3 separate regions of the Homo sapiens genome follow, and all the other regions are linked to region 3. Evidence: fine-mapped expression QTL. A gene starts in region 3. Each other region holds a variant in brackets. All regions are shown on one strand. Distances are from middle to middle. Region 1 overlaps POR (cytochrome p450 oxidoreductase). Region 2 overlaps POR (cytochrome p450 oxidoreductase). Region 3 holds the start of RHBDD2 (rhomboid domain containing 2).

Region 1 (6,909 bases), 52 kb after region 3:
GGAGGCTGGGCTGTCATCACGCCACTGTACAGCAGCCTGGCTGACAGAGTGAGACCCTGTCTCAAAAAAAAAACAACAACAAAAAAAACCCCAAAAAACAAAAACCAGGTCAGGAGTGGGGAGTGACTGCTGATGAGTGTGGGATTTCCTTTTGAGGGTATGAAGATGCTCTGGAATCTGGTAGTGGTGATGCTTGCACAATGGGTGAATATAGTGAAAACCACTGAATTTTATACTTTAAAATGATGAATTTTATGGTGTGTGAATTCTGTCTCAATTTTTTTTTTTTTTTTTTGAGACTGACTCTCGCTCTGTGGTCCAGGCTGGAGTGCAGTGGCCCAATCTCAGCCCACTGCAACCTCTGCCTCCCGGGTTCCAGTGATTCTCTTGCCTCAGCCTCCTGAGTAGCTGGGATTACAGGTGCCCACCACCACACCCAGCTAATTTTTGTATTTTTAGTAGAGACGGGGTTTCACCATGTTGGCTAGACTGGTCTCGAACTCCTGACCTCAAGTGATCTTGCCCTCCTCGGCCTGAGGCATGAGCCACTGCTCCCAGTCTCTATCTCAGGTTTCTTTTTTTTTTTTTTTTTTTTTGAGACGGAGTCTTGCTGTGTTGCCCAGGCTGGAGTACAGTGGAACAATCTTCACTTACCACAACCTCCACCTCCTGGGTTCAAGTGATTCTCCTGCCTCAGCCTCCCAAGTAGCTGGGATTACAGGCACACACTGCCATACCAGCTAATTTTTGTATTTTTAGTAGAGATAGGGTTTCACTATGTTGGCCAGGCTGGTCTCGAACTCCTGACCTTGTGATCCACCCGCCTCGGCCTCTCAAAGTACTGGGATTACAGGTGTGAGCCACCACACCCGGCTTCTATCTCAGTTTTTAAAAATCAGGTTTATAGGTCATGAGTTCTTGAGCAACTAGACTCCCACCAGTTGTGCCTCCAGTTCCCTGTCATCTTGAGCTAGTCGTGGACACCTGCAGCAGACGTATGTTCACTGCGTGTTTCTGGGCTCCCACACATTTCTAAGCCCTCTTGAAGTTAACTTCGGGTAATGGCCTGTGAGAGGAAGTCACGTATGTCACTTCTGGATGGAAGCATTTAAGAGCCAGGGCCAGGCCCTCCAGCAATCTTCTTCCCATCAGGACGGCCCGGAAGTTGAACATTGAGATGGTGGAATGACAAGAGAAAAAGCTGCTTGAACCACTGAGTCACCTTATGGAGGCCAAGGGCCTAGCGGAGTCACCCTGCCCACACTAGACGTTGCTTAGAGTTCAGCTTGAAGCCATGTGATGTGGGTCACTGCCCAGGAGGACTTTTTTCTAGTGCTGTGGCCTGGAGGACTTTCCCTCTAGCCTCTCATGCAGGTGTACTGTGTGATGTGGTGGGTCTCTTTTCTAACAGGAAGCCCCAGTGGGTGCAGCAGAGCTGTGGCTCTCCCAACTCAAGCACATCTCCACAGCTAGCTGCCGGCAAGTACGCAGCTCTCTTGGTGGTGTCTGAGAAATGGAGCATTAAGCCCTCAGTCTAAAGGAGCATCTTGGGTAACCTAGTGTACCTGTCTCGAGCAGCAGGCATAGTACAATGTCAGGCCAGCACCAAAGGATTTTGTCTTCCTTGTAAGACAACATGGGGCAATAGAAAGCTCTGTATGGGCAATCTTGTAAATGGTATAATAATTATGATGCTTTTATAGACACCGCATGACCGTCCTTAGTCACCATAGCGATGGGATCTAATTATTACTGACTTGTTCATGTTGTGGGTTTTTAGTAACCCTACTGCCCACATTCTAGAATTTAAACACATGCTGTGAATATCCAAGCACAGGTCACAGAGATGACCTAGAGTTGGTGCTCAGTACACTTTTTTTGTTTTTTTGAGACCGAGTCTGGCTCTATCGCCCAGGCTGGAGTGCAGTGGTGCGATCTCAGCTCAGCGCAACCTCCGCCTCCTGGGTTCAAGTGATTTTCCTGCCTCAGCCTCCTGAGTAGCTGGGATTACAGAGCATGCACCACCATGCCCAGCTACTTTTTGTATTTTTAGTTTCACCATGTTGGCCAGGCTGGTCTTGAACTCCTGACCTCAGGTGATCTTCCCACTTTGGCCTCCCAAAGTGCTGGGATAACAGGTGTGAGCCACCGCGCCCGGCCTCAATACACATGTGATTGCCTTGAATGCATAGCAATGACCGAACATCAAGGTGAAACGCAAGCAACGCTGGGGAAGGAATGACCAATACGGTGCCCTCTGAGGCCTCAGCCCAGGGGCCATCTGGCTTGTCTGTCTCATTAGTACCATTGTTCCCTGTCAGCTTGTGGAAGAGCTGATTTGAAACCACCTGTTGGACCGAAGGAAGCCACTGACCAATACCTGTTCTGTGGGTGAAGCTGTCGCCCAGAGCACCCCCTGTGACTCCGTGGTCCTCTATGCACTAGTAGAAACTCTGTTTTTGCTGAATGGCACAGCCCACTACTAGCTGAATGTGGGGTGACAGTAGCCAGCATGAGAACCATCAAGACCATTATGGGCCAGGAGTTGGGTCACCCCTTCCTTGTCTAGGGTTGCAACAAGAAGTGACAGAGAGGGTCCCACAAGGTCTTTAAATCTCCCTCTGTAAGTTGTGGGAATTTCAGTAACTTGCTTGGTCCTTAGGGCTTTGAATCTGAGTCTGTAAAATGGGTGAAATAATATTTCTCTAAACAGGTTTATCATATGAATCAAAAGAAATTGTAGAAGGTGCCTAGCCAGGGTGCTTGGCACGTAGTAGGTGTTGAGTGAACGTTGGTTGCATTGCTTGGCTCCTCCTTAGTGAGCCTGTAGTAAACACAGTGCTGTGTAGACTAGGCAGGCCTTTCTCTCTTCTGCAATTCTGAGTGCTTTTTCTTAAGAACCAAGGGGTACTAACCCTTGTTTTAGAGACATTCAGAAACTAGCCAGGCGTAGTGGTGTGCACCTGTAGTCCCAGCTCCTCGGGAGGCTGAGGTGGGAGGATCACTTGATCCTGGGAGGTAGAGGTTGTGGTGACCTATGATTGCACCACTGCACTCCAGCCTGGACAACAGAGCAAGACCCTGTCTAAAAATAAATAAAATAAAATAAATAAATAAATGTAAACAAGGAAATAGAAAACGTTTATACTGATGGAGTCTCGCTGTGTCGCCCAGGCTGGAGTGCAGTGGCACGATCTTGGCTCACTGCAGCCTCCACCTCCCGGGTTCAAGTGATTCTCCTGCCTCAGCCTCCCAAGTAGCTGGAATTACA[A/G]GCATGTGCCACCACGCCCGTCTAATTTTGTATTTTTAGTAAAGACAGGGTTTCTCCATGTTGGTTAGGCTGGTCTCCAACTCCTGACCTCAGGTGATCCGCCCACCTCGACCTCCCAGAGTGCTGGGATTACAGGCATGAGCCACCTTGCCCGGCCCTTATGTATTTATTTTTTAAAGACAGGGTCTTGCTCTGTCACCCAGGCTGGAGTGCAGTGTTGGGATCATATCTCACTGTAACCCCCAATTCCTGGGCTCAAGTGATCCTCTAACCTCAGCCTCCTGAGTAGCGGGGACTACAGGTGTGCACCACCACACCTCACTAATTTTTTAATTTTCTGTAGAGATGGCGTTTCACTATGTTACCCAGGCTGGTCTCAAACTCCTGGCCTCAATCCATCCTCCCGCCTCAGCCTCTCAATGTGCTGGGATTACAGGCATGAGCCACTGTGCCTGTCCAGCAACAATATTTATAACAGCCCCCAAAAGGAAACAATCCAAGTATCCATCACCCATTGAATGGATAAACAAAATGTGGTATATCCATACGATGAAATGTTACTCAGGCATGAAGAGGAATGAAGGGCTTTTATGCATGCCACAACGTGGATGGACCTTGAAGACATTATTCTAAGTGAAAGAAACCAGTTACAAAGGGCCACTTATTGTGTGATTTTATTTATTTATTTATTTATTTATTTATTTATTTATTTATTTATTTGAGACACAGTCTCCCTCTCTCACGCAGGCTATAATGCAGTGGTGCAGTCTTGGCTCACTGCAACCTCCACCTCCCAGGTTCAAGCGATTCTCCTGCCTTAGCCTCCCGAGTAGCTGGGATTACAGGCGCCTGTCATCACACCCGACTAATTTTTTTGTATTTTTAGTAGAGACGGGGTTTCACCACGTTGGACAGGTTGGTCTCGAACTCCTGTCCTCAAGTGATCCTCCCGCCTTGGTCTCCCAAAGTGCTGGGATTACAGGTGTGAGCCTCCGCACCTGGCCTGTTTTTCCTTTTAAAGCCGTGACTCTATTTTCCCTTCTGGCCTTGGTGTGTGCTCTTCCCCACTCTGTCTCCTTCCCTTTTGAGTCCTTTCCATCAGGAAGCCCTCCTTAACCACTACCAGACTCACCCACACATGAACCGGCTCCCACCATCTGTTCTGTTTATTTTGGCAAGGAAATAAAGATGTGTCTTCCACCAGAAAAGCTGAGGCCACTACTCGATTCAGTTTGCCCTCCCTGCTGGGGCACAGGTGTCATGGCCTCCCTTAAGTGCTTATTAATTCCTGTGTTTCAGCTTTCATCCTTCCACCTGCTGCTAGGCCTCTGTGCACACAGTGCTTTGTGGAATTGCTCCCGTCTCTTCAGCTTAGCAGCGTGCCTTGAAGAGGAAGAGCTGCAGAGAAATTTTGAAAATAAATTGCTTTTTGAAAAATAATTTGACAGTAAGTCAGGGACCTTGAAAATATTTGTTCCCTTTGATTCAGAAATATTTCTAAGACAAATTCAGAAATTCTTTTTTTTTTTTTTTGAGACAAATTCTGTCTCTGTCTGCCCAGGCTGGAGTGCAGTGGTGCAGTCTTGGCTCACTGCAACCTCCGCCTCCCAGGTTCAAGTGATTCTCATGCCTCAGCCCCCCGAGTAGCTAGAACTGCAGGTGTGCACCAACACGCCCAGCTAATTGTTGTATTGTTTTATAGAAACAGGGATTTGTTGTGTTGCCCAGGCTAGTCTTGAACTCCTGAGCTTAAGCAATCTGCCTGCCTCGGCCTCCCAAAGTGCTGGGACTACAGGCATGTACCACTGCGCCTGGCCAGAATTTCTATTTTAAGGAACTTATCAGTGGCTTACAAAGACTTATGTTGAAAATATATCAATCCTGTTTTTCATGACTTTTTTAAAAACAGTTTTAATTTTTTTTTCTGTACTAGAAAATGCACTGTAACTTGACATTGTAATAGTGAAAATATAATGACATTTGAGAATTTATAACAAGAAAATGTTCACAATTTAATATATGAAAAGTAGAACAAAATTATATGTAGTATAAGACCGATCATGTTAAAAACATGGGCGGGCACGGTGGCTCACACCTGTAATCCCAGCACTTTGGGAGGCCGAGGTGGGTGGATCACGAGGTCAGGAGTTTGAGACCAGCCTGGCCAACATAGTGAAACCCCATCTCTACTACAAATACAAAGATTAGCCGAGCATGGTGGCAGGCACCTGTAATCCCAGCTACTCCAGAGGCCGAGGCAGGAAAATCCCTTGAACTCGGGAGGTGGAGGTTGCAGTGAGCTGAGCGAGATGGCACCACTGCATTCCAGCCTGGGCAACAACAGAGCGAGACTCCATCTGAAAAAAAAAAAAAAAGGAAAAGTATGTCCTGTAATATGCATGTAAAAAACTGGTAGAATGAAACCAAATAAGAGTTTGGATTATGTTTTCCTTAATTTTATGTTTTAAAATATAGCACATTTTCTTCACTAAACATGCTTTTAAATTTTTTAATTGACAAAGTTGTATATATTTATAGTGTATGGCATATTGTTTTGAAGTCTGGTAGAATGGCTAAATTGAGTTAATTAACATATGCATTACCTCACACCTTTTTTTGTGGTGAGAACACTTAAAATCTACTCTTAGCAGTCTTCAAGAGTACAACACATTGCTACTAACTATAGTCACCATGTTATACAATAGGTCTTTGTTTTTTTTTTTTTTTTTTTTTTTTTTTTTTGAGCGGAGTTTCACTCTTGTTGCCCAGGCTGGAGTGCAATGGCGCGATCTCGGCTCACTGCAACCTCTGCCTCCCAGGTTCAAGCGATTCTCCTGCCTCAGCCTCTGGAGCAGCCAGGATTACAGGCACCTGCCACCACGCCTGGCTAATTTTTTGTATTTTTAGTAGAGATGGGGGTTTCACCATGTTGCCCAGGCTGGTTTCTAACTCCTGACCTCAGGTGATCCACCTGCCTGGGCCTCCCAAAGTGTTGGGATTACAGGCGTGAGCCACCGCACCCAGCCTCAGTAGGTCTCTTGAACTGTATTTAATTTTAACTTTTTGTTTTGAAATAGTTTCAGATTTGCAAAAAAGTTGCAACAGCAGTGCTAACAATTCTTGAGCGCCCTTTACCCAGATTTCCCCATTGTTAATATTTTACCATATTTGCTTTATCAATGTGTGTGTGTGTGTGTGTAGATATATTTTTTCTTGAACTATTTGAGAATGAGTTGCAGATATGACCAAGATACTTGGTTACCCCTAAGTACTTCAGTGTGTATTTTCTTCAAGGCAAGGACAGTTTTTTTTTTTTTGGTAAGCAAAATACAGTGATCAATAGCAGGAAATTAACATTGATATCCTGTGTTGTCTAATCATAGAGTTTCTTTACATTTTGCCGTTAATATCTTTTACATCAGAAAAAATATGTTTTTTTCCTGGTCCAAGACCTCAGAGTGTGTGTGTGTGTGTGTGTGTGTGTGTGTGTGTGTGTGTGTGTGTGTGTCTTAGATCACTCAGTCTTTGTTTATCTTTCATGGCCTTAACATTTTTGAAAATGTGAGGCCGTGTCTTTGTCAACGTCTCACAGTTTGGTTTGGGTTTGTATAATTCCCTTATAACAAGATCCAGCTTCC
Region 2 (6,909 bases), 78 kb after region 3:
CTCGGCAGGCTGAGGCAGGAGAATCAGGCAGGGAGGTTGCAGTGAGCCGAGATGGCAGCAGTACAGTCCAGCTTCGGCTGGGCATCAGAGGGAGACCGTGGAAAGAGGGAGGGGGAGGGGGAGGGGGAGGGACCAGACTTTGTCTCTTAAAAAAAAAAAAAAAAGACTCCCAGGCATAGGAAAGCAGGCATTCACCATAAATCTCATTGTTAACAGGAACTACCTTCATAGCCCAAGGTTTTAGGAATACAGAGACACTCTTGCCAGTCAGGATAGTCCAAGGCTCGTGAATATCAGGAGCCACTCAAGGGCCAGGCCTGGAGACTTGGAACATGCAGGGTTTAGGGCAACCCCCGCCAGCCACACAGCTGGGGAAAGGGTTTGCTGCGAAATGGTCCACTCTTGCGTGCACTTCCTCCCGCCTGCCCCCCGTGCGGTGTCCTTGTGGGATTAGAGGATGTTCCAGCACACTGAGAGTCAGTGGCTGTCATTTTCTCTGTCTTCCAGGGACCCAGTCCCAGCTGCTGCCTTAGCTTGCACCCCAGGACCACCCTGGGCTGGTGCTGACACCACTGGGGGCTGTCTGTTATGTCAGCCCCAGTCCAAGACTGTGGCTGTCTTGGCAGGAACCTGGCTGAGTGAGCCCCTTCTCCTACCCCGTGCAGTGACCATTTCCTGCAGCCCCAGGGGCAAGGCCCAGCATTTAGGTGGGCACCCCAGCCAGCCTCAGGGGCACCCTGCTACCCTCTGCTGACATCTGCTGTTTCTGTCTCCTAACAGTTTCATGATCAACATGGGAGACTCCCACGTGGACACCAGCTCCACCGTGTCCGAGGCGGTGGCCGAAGAAGTATCTCTTTTCAGCATGACGGACATGATTCTGTTTTCGCTCATCGTGGGTCTCCTAACCTACTGGTTCCTCTTCAGAAAGAAAAAAGAAGAAGTCCCCGAGTTCACCAAAATTCAGACATTGTAAGTGCCGCCTCTCAGCCTCCTCTCTCTGTCCCTCTTCTGTCACCACTCCAAGCAGTGTCCTGCATGCGGGCCTCAGGCTGAAAGAAGCAAGGCTCCTTGTAGCATTTTGGGGTGACTCTTGGGTTTTGCCTTCTTGCTAGATTGTGCTTGAGCTCTCCCTTAATCATCTCTTATGTGGGGTTTATAAGGCCCTTTTCTATCTGCTGTTTATATGACCTTCACAGGAAGCACTGCGAAAATGACACCAGTTTACAGATTAAGAACCGGGGGCTCAAGAATGTTAACGGGCCTGCCAGGGTCATTAGCCAGCAATAGCAGCGCTAGAGCTGGAACCCTTTTTTCCATTTATTTATTTATTTATTTATTTGGAGACATGGTCTCACTGTATTGCCCAGGCTGGAGTGCAATGGCGGTGGCACGATCAAGGTTCACTGTAATCTCCACCTCCCAGGCTCAGGCAGTCTTCCCACCTCAGCCTCCCGAGTAGCTGGGACTAAAGGTGTGCACCACTATGCCCAGCTAATTTTTTTTTTTTTTTTTTTGAAGCAGAATCTTGTTCTTTCAACCAGTCTGGAGTACAGCGGTGCGATCTCGGCTCACTGCAACCTCTGCCTCCCAGGCTCAAGCAATTCTTCTGCCTCAGCCTCCTGAGTAGCTTGGATTACAGGTGCCCGCCACCACGCCTGGCTATTTTTTGTATTTTTAGTAGAGACAGGGTCTCACCATGTTGGCCAGGCTGGTCTCAAACTCCTGACCTCAAGTGATCCGCCCACCTCGGCCTCCCAAAGTGCTGGGATTACAGGTGTGAGCCGTTGCGCCCAGTCAATTTTTGTATTTTTTTATAGAGACAGGGATTTGCCATGTCCCGGGCTGGTCTCGAACACCTGGACTCAAGCAATCCGCACACCTTGGTCTCCCAGAGTGTCGGGATTACAGGCGTGAGCCACTGTACCCAGCCTAGAATTGGCATTTTAAAGTCTTTTTAAGGCTGTAGCCACCTGGAAGGCTATGTGCTAATGAGCACAAAATCTTTGGACAGGCCTTATTTTGTTGCTCTTTTAAACTTTTCATGAAGCTTCCTTTTAAGAATAAGTGAAAAAGATGGATTAGTTAAAAGAAAAACGTTAAGGAAATAATAGTATAGATGGTATGTAGACAGAAAAAAATGATACCGAAGGTCTGCCTAAGTGACTGCATCCCTGTCTCTCCAAGATTGATTTCCATAAGCCACACGGAAAAGTCATTCTCCAGATTTTAGGGTCCTGCGGCCAGAATTACTTCCTGCGGTTACGCTTGGCTGTGTTTAACACCAGTCTCAGACTCCAGGGGCCCGCAGCCAGGTTTGAGTGGGGACCTGCCAGGTCAGGTCTGAGCCGAGGGAACTCCAGGGGCACGGGCCTGCTGCCTTCAGGGACTCCCTGGATTTGGCAAGGGGCAGGTCTCAGGGGCAGGATTGGGAGCCATTCTCAGACCAGAACCCCTTTCATTCTGTCTGTCTTCAGGGGACCCAGTCCCAGCTGCAGCCTTAGCTTGCACCCCAGGGCCACCCTGGGCTGGTGCTGACACCAGTGGGGGCCATCTGTCATGTCAGTTCCAGTCCAAGGCTGTGGCTGTCTTGGCAGGAACAAGCCACACAGAAAAGTCATTCTCCAAGGCTGGGCATGGTGAAGCATGCCGCTCACATCAAATCCCGATTCCCTATTCCAATCTGGGTATCAGCCTTCCCCGCCAGAACACTTACAGCCTTCACACCGTAAAGCAGATATTCACACAACACAGTTCTTATACCATGGACAGGGAATTAGTTTTACATTTTTAAAAACTGGGTTCAGGGCCAGGCACAGCGGCTCACGTCTGTAATTCCACCACTTTGGGAGGC[C/T]GAGGCGGGAGAAATCACTTGAGGTCAGGAGTTCGAGACCAGCCTGGCCAACATGGCGAAACCCCGTCTCTACCGAAAATACAAAAACTAGCTGGGCGTGGTGGTGCATGCCTGTAATTTCAGCTACTAGGGAAGCTGAGGCAGAAGAATCGCTTGAACCCAGGAGGCAGAGGTTGCAGTGAGCCAAGAATGCGCCACTGCATTCCAGCCTGGGAGACAGAGTCCGTCTCAAAAACAAAACAAAACAAAACAAAACTGGGTTCAATCTTATCTCCATCATTGACTCACTGAGCAAACATTTCCTGAGGCCCTACCTACAGTGTCCCAGACACTATGCTAAGGTGTGTGGCTGCAGCAGTGAAGAAAATAGATGAATGCTGTCTTCATCAAGCTTACGCTCTAGTGGTGAGTGAACCCTGGGCGAGACCTTAACCTCATTCTGCCTCAGTTTCCTCACCTGCTAAATGGAGGCAGTATTCCCAATCTTGTGGGGCTTTTGTCTTAAATGAGGAAGAGTCTATAAACTCACCTAGCACTGCCCCTGAGGGATAGGAGCTGTGTAGTGTTTGCGTTGATCGTATTTCGTGCCAGGCACTATGACGGGCACGATCAGGACCACAGAGCCAGCATTTATGTTAAGCTGGAAAATGAGGGTGTTGCAACATAGTTTTTTTTTTTTTGAGACAGACTTTTGCTCTTGTCACTCAGGCTGGAGTGCAGTGGTGCAATCTCGGCTCACTGCAACCTCCGCCTCCCGGGTTCAGGCGATTCTCGTGCCTCAGTCTCCCGAGTGCCTGGGACTACAGGCACATGCTACCACGCCTGGCTAATTTTTGTATTTTTAGTAGAGACGGGGTTTCACCATGTTGGCCAGGCTGGTCTCAAACTCCCGACCTCAGGTGAGCTGCCTGCCTCTGCCTCCCATAGTGCTGGGATTATAGGCGTGAGCCACCACACCCGGCCACAGCGTACTTTTTAGAAATGCTTTGTGAACTGCTTTAACCTACATTGTCTAATCAGGGCCTCCTTGCAACAGCGCCGTGCGTTAGGTAGCGTGGGTTGCCTCATTTCTGCTCTCAGAGAGGTTATGGGATGTGCCCAGGGCACAGGCTGGAGAGACAGGCTCCGCCAGCTCTAAGAGAGAAGGAATTGGTGTGGGGATCAGACCAAGTCCTGCAGGAGGGGTGTTGGGCAGGTTCTTAAAGGTAGAGCCACACCCTGAAGCTGAAAGGACTTTAGAGCAGAGGGCCCGATATAGGAAGGGCAGATCAGCTGGAATCCAGCCCATCCTGTCCAGGGCTGGTACACGGGGCATTGCTGGTGTGGAATAGTACTTTTGATAAAAAAGCGTAGTAGTACTCAAGATAAAGAGACCAGGGTCCAGGACCCAGCTCCTGAACTGGCCCTTGTTCCCTCATCTGTAAAATGGAAGTTCCGCCCCACCGCCGTGAGTGAGGACGTGGGTTGGCCCTGGGAGCCTGCGGAGCTTGCCACCAAGGGAGGCAGCATTCCTCTCATAGCTCATCTGTTCTCGCTGTCACCTCCCTGGCCTTACAAGAGGAAGTTGACATAAAACCTGTAGACTGTGGGAGCTGTAGGGTCCCAAAGCACTTGTATTTTTTTGTTGATTCTCACTGTTCCTCTTTGCCAGGATGCTGAAATTCTGTTCCCTCCACCTAATCATGATCTTCTAACCTTATGTGTGTGGAGATATGCAGTTTCCAGAGTCTTGTCTCTTCCCTCATTAAATCACACTGGATGCCTGCTGCAGCCAGGGCTTTTACCTGTACGCTGTACAAGACAAATATTTCTAGTACCATGGCTACATTCTGGACCCTGAAGTTGGGTGCTCAAGGTTGAGTACTGACTCTCCCACATTAGCCATCTGACATCAGCCAGGTGACTTGATCTTTCCAAGTCTGTGTCCCCAACTGTAAGCTGGAGGTAGTAGTAGTACTTACCTCATAAGGCTGTGAAAACTGAGTTAATCCATCATAGAGCTCTTTGCTCAGTTCCTGGTGCATAGTAGGCTCTCAGGTGTTATGGATTGTTACTATTTATTTATTTATTTTGAGGCAGGGTCTCACTCTGTCGTTCAGGCTGGAATACGCTGGCACGATCTCGGCTCACTGCAACCTCCGCCTCCCAGGCTCAAGAGATCCTCCCACTTTGGCCTCCCAAGTAGCTGGGACTACAGGCGTGCACCACCACCCTTGGCTAATTTTTATATTTTTTGTACAAATGGACATCTAACAATGTTGCCCAGGCTGGTCTGAAACTCCTGGGCTCAAGCAGTCTGCCTGCCTCGGCCTCCCAAAGTGCTGGGATTACAGGCGTGAGCCACCATGCCTGGAGTGTGTTATTATTTTTATCCTTTTTATTAATACCATCTCCAGTCTTACAAGAGCCCTTCCACGAAGACATGAGCAGCCCATTTTGCGGATGAAGAAACCGAGGTGCCAGGGATTGCAGAGTTTGCCCAAGGCCACCTAACTTCTAAATAGCAGCAGAGTTGGCTTTTGAATGAAGTCTGCAAGCTCCACAAGCCATGTTTTCTCTACTTTGCCATGCTGCTCCTAATTTAGTGTTAATAGGCCTCCTACGATAGTGTTAGTCTCCTAAGATAGTGTTAATAGGCCTGGCATGGTGGCTCACGCCTGTAATCCCAGTGCTTAGGGAGGCTGAGGCACAAAGATTGCTTGAGCCAGGAGTTCAAGACCAGCCTGAGCAACATAGGGAGACCCCCACCCCCCCGCCATCTCTACAATAAACAAAAAAGAGTGGTGTTAATTTGTTAATTTACCGACAAGGAGAGTATTCCTTATCTGAAGTGCTTGCCAGAAGTGTTTCAGATCTTGGACTTTGGAATGTTTGCATTATACTCACCAGATGAGCATTTCTTATCTGAAAATCTGAAATGCTCCAATGATTCTTCCCTTTGAGGATCATGTTGACGCTCAAAAAGTTTCAGATTTCAGATTTTAGATTAGGGACATTCAGCCTGTAGATGTTATTTTACAGAGCAGGAAGTTGGGTGTAGTGGTTCACACTTGTGATCCCAGCTCTTTGGGAGGCCAAGGCAGGAGGATTGCTTAAGCCCAGGAGTTGGAGACCAGCCTGGGCAACGTAGCAAGGCCCTGTCTCTATAAAAAATAGGAGAAAACTGAGGCTCAGAAAGGTCACCTAGCTGATACAACCAGGCCTCAAGCCTAGATCTCCTATTCTAAATCCCACATCAGTGTCCCTGGCTACCGGTATTTCAGTGAGCACAGGTGATTTCTGTTATAGCCACAGAGCAGTAGGGAGTAATAGGGCTTAGTGTGAGGAAGGTATGTGGCCCAGGGCTATATCAGGAACTCTCACCATGATTTCTGGTGGCTTCTAGAATTGGCATTTATTTATTTTGTTTTAGAGACACGGTCTCGCCCTGTCACCCAGGCTGGAGTGCTATGGCGCGATATCAGTTCACTGCAACCTCTGCCTCTGGGGCTCAAGCGATTCTCTTGCTTCAGCCTCCCAAGTTGCTGGGATTACAGGCACCCACCATGATGCCCGGCTAATTTTTGTATTTTTAGTAGAGATGGAGTTTCACCACGTTGGCCAGGCTGGTCTTAAACTCCTGACCCCAAGTGATCCATCCGCCTGGGCGTCCCAAAATACTGGGATTACAGGTGTGAGCCACTGTACGGGGCCAAACACATTTTTAAAACAAAAAACCCAGTGGGATTTTTGTTGGAATTGGATTGAATCTGTATATTAATATGGGAAGAGTTGACATCCTACAATATTGAGCTTTCTATTCCATGAACATTGTTTTATCCCTCCCGGGGAGGTCTTTTGGACTGTTTGTAATAGCAATTAATGACTTGTTAGAGAGGAGTGGTAATGAGCAACAAGTTCTTTTTCATAATAATAGTAGCAGTAATGATAATAAATGGCTCTTCCTGCCAGGTGTGGTGGCTCACGCCTGGAATCCCACACTTCAGGAGGCCGAGGCAGGTGGATTGCTTTGAGCCCAGGAGTTCAAGATCAGCCTGGCAACATGACGAAACCCT
Region 3 (6,909 bases):
TAATGTCTCCTTTAAGGGAACATTAAAGGAAATGGCCAGTATAACATGGTATTTATCTCCTGGTTTTTGGCTTGGCTCATGCCTGGAATCCCAACACTTTGGGAGGCCCAGGCACGAGGATCACTTGAGCCCAAGAGTTTGAGACCAGCCTGGGCAACATAGTGAGACCTCTGTCTGTACAAACAACAACAACAAAAAGGCCCAGTGGGCTGGGCGTGGTGGCTCAAGCCTGTAATCCCAGCATTTTGGGAGGCTGAGATCTCAGGCGGATCACCTGAGATCGGGAGTTCGAGACCAGCCTGACCATCATGGTGAAACCCCGTTTCTGCTAAAAATGCAAAATTAACCGGGCATGCTAGCGCATGCCTGTAATCCTAGCTACTCGGGACGCTGAGTCAGGAGAATCGCTTGAACCGGGGAGGCGGAGGTTGCGGTGAGCCAAGATCACACCATTGCACTCCAACCTGGGGAACAAAAGCGAAACTCAGTCTCAAAAAAAAAAAAAAAAAGTGCAGTGTCTCACACCTGCAATCCTAGGTTTCCCTTAAGGGAAACGTGAATATCTCCTGCAACTGCCCTCTCCGAGCCTAAACCCTCTGCACAGCAAATGCAGAAAACTCTTTCTACAGAGAGCTAGGTGGGCTGACTGGCCATGCCATCCTAGACTGGTGTACCTCAGGTCTCCTCTTCAAAAAATATCTTGAAATTCTTGCCAGAAATTCAGTGTGAAATGCATTCGGGATGGTGGCTGTTGTTATAACAGTCCCCAGGGGTCTCAATTACGTGAGAACCCTCGGCTTCTGGACAAGAGACAAGGAAGGGAAGTAGGTCACATCCCAAAGGCATCAGGGCTAATAACTTTGCATTGAACATTTTCTGTGGCCCCACTGTGTGCTAGGTGCCAGGGCTGTGGATACAGACACAGGTATAAATCAGACATGGCTTCTGCCCTTGGTAAGCTCACAATTACGGGCACAAATATGCAATGATAGTATAATATGGGAAGTGCCTCAGGAGGCTGAGGCAGCGAACTGCTTGAACCAGGGAGGAGGAGGTTACAGTGAACAGACATTACAGCACTGCACTCCAGCCTGGGTGACAGAGCAAGACTTCGTCTCAAAAAAAAAAAAAAAAAATTCCTGGAAGACTTGTTGCCTAATTTTAAGTTACTTAACTTCTCTGTATCTCCATTGCTTCATCTGTAAAACGGGCGTAATTACAGAACCAGCCTCACAAGGGTTGTGAAAATGTAATGAGTAACTACATAAAAAGCACACAACAGGCTAGGCATGGTGGCTCACACCTGTCATCCCAGCACTTTGGGAGGCCAAGGCGGGACGATTGCCTAAGCCCAGGAGTTCAAGACCAGCCTGGGCAACAGAGCAAGATCCCATCTCTACAAAAAAGAAGCAGCTAGCTAGGTGCGGTAGCACGCACCTGTGGTTCCAGCTACTTGGGAGGCTGAGGCAGGAGGATACCATGAGCCCGGGAGGTCAAGGCTGCAGTGAGCTATGATTGTGCTACTGAAGCAGGACACACAAGCCCCAAAATTTAGCCTCCTTCCTTCAGAGCCAGCAGGAGCTTCTAAGCTATGGGGGGCAGCAGTTACAGCTGAGTCAAACCAAAGCCTGCAGCCAAGGGCAAGGAGCTGATAACACTAGGGTGGGTGTGTGGGGAAGGAGCCAAATACTTCTACCATGTGAGGGGAGGGAGTACTGGGCAGGGTCACTGGAGAAAGCGAAAAAGGTAGTACCCTTGAAGGTACTGCTGGGCACAGTGGCTCATGTCTGTAATTCCAGGACTTTGAGAGGTCAAGGCAGGCTTATCACCTGAGGTCAGGAGTTCGAGACCAGCCTGGCCAATGTGGTGAAATCCCATATCTACTAAAAATGCAAAAATTAGCTGGGCGTGGTGATGCACACCTGTAGTCCCAGCTACTTGGGACTCGGGAGGCTGAGGCACAAGAATCACTTGCATCTGGGTGGCAGAGGTGGCAGTGAGCAGAGATCACGCCACTGCACTCCAGCCTGGGTGACAGAGTGAGACTCTTGTCAAAAAAAAAGGAAGGTCTACCTTAAACAGCTGTTCTCCAGCAAAAGCACTTTTCAAACTGTAAAGTGCTGAAATAGATCTCGGTTATGAGTGTTCTATTACATCCCTAACTTTTGAGTCCCTTCCATTGAATCCCTCTCCCGTTTCCTGTCCCTTTTCCTTTTTTTTTTTTCCGAGATACAGTCTTGCTCTGTCACCCAGGCTGGAGCGCAGTGGTGCGATCTCGGCTTGCTGCAACCTCCGCCTCCTGGGTTCAAGCGATTCTCCTGCCTCAGCCTCCGGAGTAGCTGGGATTACAGGCACGCGCCACCATGCCGGGTTAATTTTTGTAGTTTTATTAGAGACGGGGTTTCACCATGTTGGCCAGGCTGGTCTCTAATTCTTGACCTCGTGATCCGCCCGCCTCGGCCTCCCAAAGTGCTGGGATTGCAGGCGTGAGCCACCGTGCCCAGCCTCCTGCCCCTTTTCTTCAATATGAAGATAAAGCTGCCCCTGGCTGTACTGGAGGCCAATTCCGGGCCATAGCAGGAGGAACTGAGTTCTAATTCTGTCTTTGCCATGTAACTGAATTACCCAGGGCCCTCCCTAGTCCTGTTTCCTCTTTGGTGTAATAGGGATGAATACAGATGGGAAGATCGTGATATGAAAGAGTTCTGTGAGCTGTAAGGCATAATAATCATGAGGTATTATTACAGGACCAACAGGTGCCTAGGCCCGCTGTGCAATAACAGACCAGTTACACTGAGGAAGCAGGGTTATCAGCAGAAAAAGGGTTTAAAGATGGCAGGGTGCCTAGGAGGAGACGCAGGGAGACCAACAAATCCATCTTCCCCAAGGAGTTCCGGGCTGGGATTTTAAAGGGCATTGTGAAGGGTGAGGGGCTGGAAAATTGGGGTCATCGACTGGTCAGGGTAAGGGGGTTGAAATCCTCAGGATATGGAAACTGCAGTCCCCATTGAGTCTTGCTTCTGTGGGCTCCTTCAGAACAACTGGTGTCAGTAATTATGCTGGTATGCGGGACCTGAAAGAATATCTCCAAGGGAAAACGTTTCATAATGTTCAAGTTGTTATCTATGGAGTTAAGGGGAATTGTAATCTTGTGACAGGGTCTACGTGATTCTAGGACAGACGATGGGCACCTATCATAGCTGATACACAGAGCTATGAGCAAGCAGGTCGGAGAGCAAGGTGACCTAGTGATGAACGCAGAGTGTGCTGCAAGCTTCGTTTATTTTCGTTTTTCCCCCTCCCTTCTTCCCTGATTAATTTCCTAAAGTTTATAGGAGCAGTTTCAGTACCAGCCCGAGTAGGATGGAATCAAACACGGTGCTGGAACATTCCTACCCGGAAGTGGCCCCGACCCCCCTCCCCCCGTCCCGGCCTCCCACGCACGGGGGGGGGGGGGGGGGGGGCTGATCGGCGCTACCGGATTGGACAACTTGGCATGGGGCGGGGCCTCTGGGAGGCGTGGCCTCCGGCCGGCTCCTCTGCTGTTGCCAAGGGAAACTGCCGCGAGGAGGCGGAAGGAGCAGAGGACCGGCAGCCGGCGTCGAGGCGGGGCGCGGGAACGACGGCGGCCATGGCGGCCTCGGGGCCCGGGTGTCGCAGCTGGTGCTTGTGTCCCGAGGTGCCATCCGCCACCTTCTTCACTGCGCTGCTCTCGCTGCTGGTTTCCGGGCCTCGCCTGTTCCTGCTGCAGCAGCCCCTGGCGCCCTCGGGCCTCACGCTGAAGTCCGAGGCCCTTCGCAACTGGCAAGGTGAGCAGGGGCGGGCCGGGATCGCGGGGCGAGTCCTTGTCCTCCGACTTTGCCGGTTCCTGGGCTCTAGCCTCCGGGACTCGCCCCTTCAGGCCTCACCGCCAGTCTCCCCCTGTCTCGGTCCTCATCACCATGCCCGCCCCCCGGAGGACCGACCTCCAGCACCGTCTCTTGCTCTCCGTGTTCCACACCTTTGTCTGCAGACCCCATCTTCGTCATCACTGTAATCCCTTCCCTACCCGAATTTGTTCCCTTCCCTGTCGCCACCAGACTGGTTAAGGCCCCAAATCCATTCGCTAGCAAATCCATGCTCGCTCTCCAAGGGTAAAGATTTTTCGTCTCCCCCTCCCATTTCACATACACACCTACGTCTGCTTTAGGCCTAAGCCCCACTGAAAAACGTTTTTCTCTCACCTACATCACGACAATTGGACTTTATCCACAAACCCCTATAAGCCCTATAAACGTCCTGCCCTCTTGAGATTTGGAATTTCTTCTGCTTTTTCATCTGTATCTTAATCTTGACTGCCATTCCCAGCTCATGGGGGTACCAGGGTGTCTTCTGCCTTTGGAGAGAAGTGTTTGTTTTTCTCTAGGGGAGAGAAATTTTGCAGACCAATTAAGTATAAACATCCATTCCTGAAAGACATTCCTAGTCTCCGTGTCTTCCTCATTTTCTCGAGAGGAACACAGGAAATTTGCATATCTCCTGCTGTTTTGCAAAGCACACACACTGATATGTATTAATTTCGTTTAACCCTCACAAGGATCCCATGACGTAGGACCTGTTATTGGCCCGTTATCTAGATAAGATTGAGGTTTCATGCAGAGAATCGCAGAGCTGTTGCGTCATGCAATTGAGATAGGAATCTATATTTTTTTTTTTATTCTGTGATGTTTTGGAACTAGAGCCTTCGGGTAGATAATCTCCAAATCATGTACAGTTGCTTCTAGAATCTTTTCATGTTTATACTTGGAATTTCAGTTTTGGAAATACTCAACAAATAATGAAGTACTCTTCAGATAATGAAGCCTCTGGTGATGGCCAGACTGAGGTATATGGTTCCATAGCCTGCTTCCCCACTCCAATCTAAAACTGTTCCCCCCACCCTAGGTATACATAGCACCACCTCACAGACAGAAGCAAAATGCCAACCTAACCTTAACCTCCCACTTTCTGGGGTTCACTGCTTCCCTGGGTGTGGGTTTCGTGGATATGTGAGCGTTAGAGACGTAAGGGACCTTTGAAGTCCTCAATCTAACTCTTGTTACTTTACAGTGAGGAAACTGACGCCTAGAGGACCTGTGACATGATTAAACTCAGCCAGCCTGGATGTAATAGAGCCAAGATTCCACTCCAAGTCTTTAGACTCCCAAGTCCAATATTACCATCAGTTCTTTGGTCTCTCTCCTTGAGTTTAGTCGTATTTGGGCATGCAGGGACATAAAAATACTTAAGAGATAACCACTTCTAAAATTTTTTTAGAGATAGGGTCTTCGTCTTACCCAGGCTGGAGTGCAGAGATGCAATCATAGCTCACTGCAGCGTTCAACTCCTGGAATCAAGCGAGCCTCCTGCCTCAGCCTCCCAAGTAGCTGGGACTACAAGTACACATCATCACACCTGACTAATTTTTAAATTTTTTTTAAAGACGGGGGTCTCACTATGTTACCTAGGCTGGTCTTGAACTCCTGGGCTCAAGTGATCCTTCCACCTAAGCCTCCCAAAATGCTGGGATTACAGGTGTGAGCCACCATGCCTGGCGATAACTGCTTTTAGAAAAATAAAAGGCCAGGAATGATGGTTCGTATGTGTAGTTTCAGCACTTTGGGAATTCAAGGCAGGAGGATCACTGGAGGCCAGGAGTTCAAGGCTAGCCTGGGCAACGTAGCAAGACTTTGTCTCTACAAATAAAAATTTAAAAAAAGGAAAAGGAGGATTCTTTGATGTCTTATTACATATAAAGCATCAGTTTACCTGTGAGATCGGATAAGCACTTTCTGAGGAGACTTATAATTTCTATAATCTTTATTGTTAATGATAGTGTTATAATTCTTACAGCTGCAAAATAATTCATGGTCCCTTTTTTCTTCCTCTGAACAGCCACTATGGAAGGAGGGGTCAGGATTACAGCAGAGGAGACTGGCACACAGAGTGTTAAGTGACACCCACTCAATCCACCCCGAAGCTGTTACACTTAATTAACCCTCAAACTGCCCAGTGAGGTAGGTCAGTATGAAAACCTGAAAAAGGATTATAAAGCACTTTACAAATTCAGAGACTGCCCTCTACCGAAAAGTATTATTTTTTTCCCTCTGGAAGTCAGTTACCGCTAAGAGTTGCACCAGGCCTGGGGAAGTGTAGGGATTAGATATTCATGCCTCTCCTTTGAGGCTCTGGGTCCTTCATTGTTGAACGCACTGCTTGTATTGCCTCCTGCTGCGACTCACTGGCTCTCACTTCTCTGTCACGGAGGGGGGCTCTCTGCCTTTCCTAGGCGGCTTATAACCTGGCTTCCCTCCTGGGAGCAACCCGCCGCCAGGCCTCTAACCCGACTCCCTCTGCAGTTTACAGGCTGGTAACCTACATCTTTGTCTACGAGAATCCCATCTCCCTGCTCTGCGGCGCTATCATCATCTGGCGCTTTGCTGGCAATTTCGAGAGAACCGTGGGCACCGTCCGCCACTGCTTCTTCACCGTGATCTTCGCCATCTTCTCCGCTATCATCTTCCTGTCATTCGAGGCTGTGTCATCACTGTCAAAGCTGGGGGAAGTGGAGGATGCCAGAGGTTTCACCCCAGTGGCCTTTGCCATGCTGGGAGTCACCACCGTCCGTTCTCGGATGAGGCGGGCCCTGGTGTTTGGCATGGTTGTGCCCTCAGTCCTGGTTCCGTGGCTCCTGCTGGGTGCCTCGTGGCTCATTCCCCAGACCTCTTTCCTCAGTAATGTCTGCGGGCTGTCCATCGGGCTGGCCTGTATCCTTCCTAGCAGAGAGCTATAGAACAACGCATGTCAAAGGGTGAACCAGGCTGGAGGGTCTGGGGTGTCAAGTAGATAAAATTGGGCTTACTTTGTATTTTTTCGAAACAGAGTCTCTGT

Evidence for each region. PIP is the estimated chance that this variant, and not a neighbour inherited with it, causes the effect.
Region 1: its variant is the best candidate, but not a certain one, in a credible set for the expression of RHBDD2 in tibial artery (GTEx, PIP 0.63).
Region 2: its variant is the best candidate, but not a certain one, in a credible set for the expression of RHBDD2 in whole blood (TOPMed, PIP 0.63).

Annotation. Positions count from the first base shown.
Region 1 is chr7:75,927,394-75,934,302 of GRCh38, forward strand. The region is part of intron 1 of POR (cytochrome p450 oxidoreductase); the gene reads left to right. Among named protein-coding and RNA genes, the nearest start is that of SNORA14A, 13 kb to the right of the region's middle. RefSeq lists an enhancer at 1,144-1,203. The variant A/G (reference allele first, on the strand shown) is at 3,272.
Region 2 is chr7:75,953,209-75,960,117 of GRCh38, forward strand. POR (cytochrome p450 oxidoreductase) reads left to right here. Exons shown (of 16, transcript NM_001395413.1): 2 at 781-972. The coding sequence starts at 794. Among named protein-coding and RNA genes, the nearest start is that of SNORA14A, 13 kb to the left of the region's middle. RefSeq lists a silencer at 5,623-5,917. The variant C/T (reference allele first, on the strand shown) is at 2,855.
Region 3 is chr7:75,875,452-75,882,360 of GRCh38, forward strand. RHBDD2 (rhomboid domain containing 2) reads left to right here and starts at 3,583. Exons shown (of 4, transcript NM_001040456.3): 1 at 3,583-3,809; 2 at 6,378-6,785. The coding sequence starts at 3,632. RefSeq lists an enhancer at 3,279-3,887 and silencers at 3,434-3,683, 3,784-3,963.